2 linked regions of the Homo sapiens genome follow. The protein of the gene in region 2 interacts with the protein of the main gene of each other region in a pairwise test. Each region holds a gene or a part of one and is shown on either strand. Other genes may lie near its edges.

Region 1 (3,096 bases), on a different chromosome or scaffold from region 2:
ACGGCTGGGCAGGTAGTGGGTGGGGGGCCCCAAGGGTGGGGTCCAAAAGGGAGCTAGCAGGCTCTGTTCTCTGGCAACCTAGGAAGACACTCCCTCCCTCCTTCCCTGGTGATTTAATTGGTCATCTACTATGTGCCCAGCAAACAGAACAGCAGAGCTCACCGTCCAGGGTAGTTTAGAGATGAAATGAGGTAAAGCGTGCCTAGTATGCAGGAGTACCCCTGGTACATAATAAGCATTTGACAGGCTGGGCACAGTGGCTCACGCCTGTAATCCCAGCACTTTGGGAGGCCGAGGTGGGCGGATCACAAGGTCAGGAGATCGAGACCATCCTGGCTAACACGGTGAAACCCCGTCTCTACTGAAAATACAAAAACAAAATTAGCCGGGCGTGGTGGCGGGTGCCTGTAGTCTCAGCTACTTGGGAGGCTGAGGCGGGAGAATGAAGTGAACCCGGGAGGCGGAGCTTGCAGTGAGCCAAGATCGCGCCACTGCACTCCAGCCTGGGCCACAGGGCAAGACTCCGTTTCAAAAAAAAAAACAAAAAAAACAAACCAGCAGTCATGTCCCCTTTTCCAATGCCTGGATGGTGGCTGGGCTTCGTGGCCAGCGCTGCTGTGCACATGGGCAAGTGAGGCTCAGAGCCATCAGATAAAGGAAGAGCGAGGGCCCCAGCCAGGCAGCCTGCATTCGACCCCAGCTCTGCCACCTATCAGCTGTGTGACTTTGGACAATCACCTGAACCTTCCTTGAGGCTTGTTTCCTCATCTGTAAAGTGCGGGGGTTGTACTGCCTGTCAGGCTGTGCGTGGCAGGAGATGACTTCCGTGAGTTAGTGCCCCTCAGGGGCTTAGTGAGTGTCTGTCATGTTGTAGGCATTTGAGACCTGTCAGGTATTGGTAAAATCAGTGCCATCTTTATTGGTTTCATTAATTTTTCTACCAAGGTCACATTGCTAATTCATTGGAAGAGACCCTAAAGTTTGCCTCGTATGTGACATTTGGTTCCTCTTGGTCTCTGGGCCTCAGTCTCCCCATCTGTAGCTTGGGGGGTATACCTAAGGCTCCTCCACCAGGCTCAGACGGGCTGGCTTCCCGGGGGCCACAGGGATGGCTGCTCTCATCTGCCTGGGGGACTGTGCTGGGCTGGGGAGGGGCAGGGGAGGGCCTGGTGGAGAAGGACATCTTTGCTGACCCAGGCTCTTCTGGCAAGCCTGGACCACAGTGGCAGTGGGGCCCGCTGTGCCAGGGGTCCCGTTTCCTCCTCTCCCTGAGGGGGCGGGGCTGAGCTCTCAGATGCTCCTCTGTCCCTGCACCCTCCCAGCTGAAGAAGAGAGCCCTGGACCAGCTGCGGCTGGTGAGGCCCAAGCCCGTGGGGGCGCCTGCAGGGGACTCCCCGGATCAGCTGCTGCTGGAGCCCTGTGCAGGTGAGTGCGCGGGGGCAAAGCTGTATCCCGTGTTGCTCCCATTGTCCAGGGATGTGTGCAGCTGAGTGTCCTTTAGCTTGGGTGGCCTCTTTGGCCTGGAAGGGCCTGTTGTGAGGGTTCCAACAGGAGTGGGGGTCATGCTGGGGGCCTGAGAGACAAGACCACCCCACCTGCCATGGTGATTGCCAAGGTTGAGGGAGACCCTGCGGGGAGGTGCATGCAGACGTGGCTGTGACTGTGGGTTTGCACACATACTGGCTTGTTCTTTTCTGGCAGAGTGTGTGTAGTGGTGCTTCTCACACGTGTGTGGTGGCAGGTGCTGTGAGGACCCAGGGGGGTTCCCGGAGGCAGTAGGGTGAGGCCTTAGGCCAGACAGGTAGAAGGGGCTGGGGGAGCTCAGATGAGGGAGTAGCAAATCTGGGGCAAGAGGAGCGGGTAGTTAGGGAAGACTTCCTGGAAGAGAGGGAGTTTCCGCGGGGGCCTTCAAAGTTAAAGAGGAGTTCGTTCCAGGCAGAAGGCACAGAGGCATGGCTGTGTGTGGTGTGCTTGGAGGGTGTTGGGGACAGCAGGTGAGTATTGAGTACCAGCTCTGTCAGGCATTGGGGACGTGACTGTCCCTGCCCTCATGGAGCTTGCTGTCTAATTAGGGGGTAGAGAGTCAGATAATCCCACCTATGAACACAATGAGAGAGTGTGAGGTGTGCAGTGGAGAACTGGGGGCCGTGGGGCACATGCCAGGGGCCCTGATGTCTGGGGACCAGGGAAGGTGTGACCTAGGCTCTGAAGGGAGGGCAAGGGTTAACTGGGCTGAGTGGTGCAGGGCTGGGGCTTTGGGCAGCCCCAGGGCATGCAAAGGCCCTGTGGTTGGACGCAGCTGAAGGGAGAGTGGAGGCTGGTGGTGTGGGGTCAGTGGCTGGCAGCCTCCCCAGGCTCTCAGGCAGGACTGTGTCACCCACGTGGGGGATGTGGCTTTTATTCCTGAGAATCTGGGAAGTCACTGGTGTGTTGAAAGCAGGGGAGTTAACATGATCTGATTTGCTTTTTAAAGCCTCTCTGGCTGCTGGATGGAGAATGACCCGTAGGGGGCAGGGATGAGGCAGAGAATCAGGGAGGAGCCTACTGCCACCGTCGGTCCTACTAAGGGTGTGTGTGTGTGCATGTGTAGGAGGAGCAGCAGCAGGACTTAGGAAGGGATGGGTGGCGGGGTGGGTTTTGGGGTATCGACGAGCTGGTATGCTGCCTGCCTGTGCCCTTATCTCTTTTGCGCCCCTCCCCTGCCACAGAGCCGGAGCGGAGCCTCAGACCCTACAGTTTGGTGCGGCCGCTACTGGTGTCTGCCCTGCGGCCCGTGGTGCTGTTGCCTGAGTGCCTGGCGCCCCGGCTCATCCGTAACCTGCTAGACCTGCCCAGCTCCCGGCTGGACTTCCAAGTGTGCCCAGCGGGTGAGACTATGTGCCGGGGAGGGGAGGCTGGGTGCCCCTCTGGGCAGCCGGGCCCATGGATCCTTCATCTCTCCCTCTCCACTCCCTGTGCAGAAAGCCTCTCTGGGGAGGAACTGTGCCCATCCTCAGCGCCTGGAGCCCCCAAGGCTCAGCCTGCCACCCCTGGGCTAGGCAGCAGGATCCGGGCCATCCAGGAGTCTGTTGGGAAGGTGGGTGCTGGGGGCTGGCC
Region 2 (3,819 bases):
TGATGATAGATGAGGCGAGACTTCTTGAGGAAAGCCTTCCCACACTCAGTGCATACATGGGGTTTATCTATGTTTTGAGTTCGCTGATGCTTAATGAATTGTGAATTTGTATTCACAGAATTTCCACCTTCGGGGAAGTTCATTTCATTATGAAATTGTTCATGCTTGGCATGAAGGAAGGATTTCCCATCTCCATTAACCCCCACAGAATTCTTGATTTCATACCTTTTGTTCTGGTTGACTAAACTTAAATTTGATTTCAGTATTTTCCCATGTAAGTCAAATGTATCATGATTTTGCCTTAAAGGAAAATCACTTTTCCTCTGATGAATGATGTTTCCAAATGCATTATGTTTATGGCATTGTTCCACTCTCTTCAGACATCTTTGCTTTTGTGAGTGCATCTGTAGATGATTGTCAACTTTCTTGATTTCTAGGAAAGAAGAGAACAATAAATCTTTCCATGAGCATGGAATAGAACTATTTCACAAACAGTCTTGTACAGGCTGGCTCTACTGACCACACTATTTCCACTGTTTAAAAAACTCCAAGTAGATATGCCTATTGTCACTTGGACAAGAATAAACCATTATAATTTAAACAAAGAAAACAAAAAATAAAAGCAGTCAGTGTATAAACAAGGTAAATTTCTCAGGAAATGGCAAGTTAATTCCTGCTCGGACTCATGCCAGAAACCTTACTATCATCTTTCATTTGTATGTTTGTCTCACACCCTTTGTCTACTTCAGTAGTAAATTCCTTATGTCTTTTATAAATATACAGTAATCCCTCATCTATGGGCGATATGTTCCAAGACACCCCCCACACCATGGATGCCTGAAACTCTGAATCATACTTAACCCTATATCCATTATGTTTTTTCCTGTACAGTGCATACATACCTATAATAAAGTTTACAAACTAGGCACAGCAAGAGATTAACAATAACAAATAATAAAATAGAAGAATTATAACAATAGGCCAGCATCACACTCTTGAGCTTTGGAAGCATTATTAAGTAAAACAAAGGTTACTTGAACACAAGCACTGTGATACCTTGACAGTTGATCTGATAACCAAGATGGCTACTAAGTGACACAGGTGGGTAGGGTACACAGCATGCATATGCTGGACAAAAAATGATTCCTGTTCCAGGATGGAGCAAGATGGTGCAAGATTTCATGCTCCTTGGAATGGTGAGCAATGTAATTAAGAATTGTTTATTTCTAGAATTTCCCATTTAACATTTTCAGACCATAGTTGACCACAGGTAGCTGAAACTGTAGAAAGAGAAACTGTGGATAACAGGGGACTCCTGTATTCTGAAACTCACTAACACTCACCCCTTCTACCTAGATGGAAGAGAATCACTCTTTCTGGTACTATAGCAATAGCCTCCCAAGTGGACTTCAGGCTTCAACCTCTGCCTTCTCCTGTATACTTTCTACAAAGTAGTCAAAGTGATCCTTTTAAATATAAATGACATCATGTCACTCTTCTACTCAAAACTCCCTCATGTTTCCTCATCTCATAATTTTTTAAAAAATCAAGTCATGGCCGGATGCAGTGGCTCACGCCTGTAATCCCAGCACTTTGGGAGGCCGAGGCACGTGGATCATGAGGTCAGGAGATCAAGACCATCCTGGCCAACATGGTGAAACTCTGTCTCTACTAAAAATACAAAAAGTAGCCAGGAGCGGTGGCTTACGCCTGTAGTCCCAGCGACTTGGGAGGCTGAAGCAGGAGAATCGCTTGAACCAGGGAGGCAGAGGTTGCAGTGAGCTGAGATCACAGCACTGCACTCCAGCCTGGAGACAGAGAGAGACTCTGTGCCAAAAAAAAAAAAAAAAATCAAGTCATTAAAATGTCCTTGAAAGGTCATACATGACCTGTCTACCCCAAACTCCAGATCCCACCACACTGTCCTTACTTCCGTATTATCTCCGACCACTGCCCCTCTTGTTCACTCCTCTGTATTCACACAGGCTTCCTTGAAGTTCCTCAAACACACACCTGCCTTGGGCCTTTGGACCTGCTATTTTGTCTACTTGGAAGGTAATTCACCAGGGGGACGTATTCATGTCTGTCATACAGCTGCTCAAAGGCATCTGACCAAACAGCCATTCCCACTCCCGGCATCCCTCATTATACTTTGTTATTGGTCTTCCCAGCATTTTTCACCACAAGACATTTATCCATTTTGATTAATTTTGTGCCTCTTCCTTTTAGCAGGTAATCTCCAAGAAGAATTTTGTTGTTGTTATTGATGTTCACAGCTGTCAGGGCCCATATGTAATAGTCTATCAAAAAATATTTAAGGCAATGAAACAAGGAAAGTAAGGGACACACTGCGGAAACTACTTCAAATGTAGTGCTTTATATATAGTTGGCTTTGAATTTATGAAAAGGAAAAGGAAAACAAACTCTGTGTAGGCAAGATGATACCATATCATGGTGATTCAACTAGAATATCACCTGACAGATGAGAAATTTCCATCTTATATGACTGCTATGATTCACTGGGACTCAGTGCCATCAGACTATGGTAAGAACAGAAAAGCTTTAAGGGAATAAGTCCAGCAATATAATTTAAGAGAAACTAAATAATAGGCAGAATTAATGATTCCAAAAGGAAATTGAAGCAAAGCAGGCATGAGGTGTAGTAATCTGGTTTGGGTTGGAAAGAGAATGAGACTACTTCAAAAATCAATTGAAAGAGCAAAGACTTTAAATACGGTAGCTGAGGAGGCAGGGAAGTTTCAAGGTAACCCTGTGGTGGCCAGGATCGACTCAAGGAGTTGACATGCAAGTGGGTAAAAAATAGGTACAAACATGTAAGTTAGGAAATATTAAGGGAGATGTCAATCTGAGAATCTCCATAGAGAACAAGAACTTAAGTCATTAGAATGAAGGAAACTTTTAAAGGATATGAGAACAGAGCAAAATAAATGGGAAACAGAACCTCTGGAGGACCTCAGAGTGGGAGAAAAAAGAGAAGCTAAGGAAGCAAATATATGCAAAGCAACAGACCAGGTTACTAAGGGGGCACAGAGTCCAAGATAGGGTGGGAAGACCTTTGGAAAAAAAAAATCAACATTATCTAAAGGGGCAGAAAGGTATAGTGGTCAGGAGAGAGTGCTGATATCCAAGACCACTCTTTGGAGACAGACATGGAAGGAGGAATTTCATAGCAAGAGAAGTAGAAGGAACAGGTAGTGATGCTCTGATGGGGGAACAAGAAATGATGAGATTTGAGAATCCTAAAAAGGAAGAAACCTTGAGAAAAACAAATCAAACCTAGATTAAATAAAGAGTGATGAGGCCGGGTGTGGTGGCTCACACCTGTAATCCCAGCACTTTGGGAGGCCAAAGCAGGTGGATCACCAGAGGTCAGGAGTTTGAGACCATCTTGGTCAACTTGGTGAAACCCCGTCTCCACTGAAAATACAAAAAAATTAGCTGGGCGTAGTGGCGGGTGCCTGTGATCCCAGCTACTGGGAAGACAGAGGCAGGAGAATCGCTTGAACTGGGAGGTAGAGGATGCAGTGAGCCAAGATTGCACCACTGGGCTCTAGCCTGGGTGACAGAGTGAGACTCCATCTCAAAAAATAAATAAATAAAATAAAATAAATAAAAAATAAACAGTGATGAAATCCAAGACGCGATAACGAAGCAGATGTTCCTCTAAATACCCGAAGGAGAAAGAGCTTTTGTGTGGGGAGAGGGATACATGGAGGCTCTGTCCACACAGCCTCAGATGCCCTGACAGCTCAGACACTGCTGAACAACTATCATGTGACTTGCTCAGCCACCCTCCTT

What was found.
Region 1: the proteins of ZNF613 (region 2) and CARD10 interact in binary tests that used the Homo sapiens proteins (3 or more experiments, as listed by UniProt).

Annotation. Positions count from the first base shown.
Region 1 is NC_000022.11:37,492,415-37,495,510, reverse strand, and holds part of CARD10 (caspase recruitment domain-containing protein 10), read left to right. Parts: intron 1-1,322; coding exon 1,323-1,425; intron 1,426-2,708; coding exon 2,709-2,867; intron 2,868-2,960; coding exon 2,961-3,076; intron 3,077-3,096. UniProt on the Homo sapiens protein: Scaffold protein that plays an important role in mediating the activation of NF-kappa-B via BCL10 or EGFR.
Region 2 is NC_000019.10:51,940,733-51,944,551, reverse strand, and holds part of ZNF613 (zinc finger protein 613), read right to left. Parts: intron 434-3,819; coding exon 1-433. UniProt on the Homo sapiens protein: May be involved in transcriptional regulation.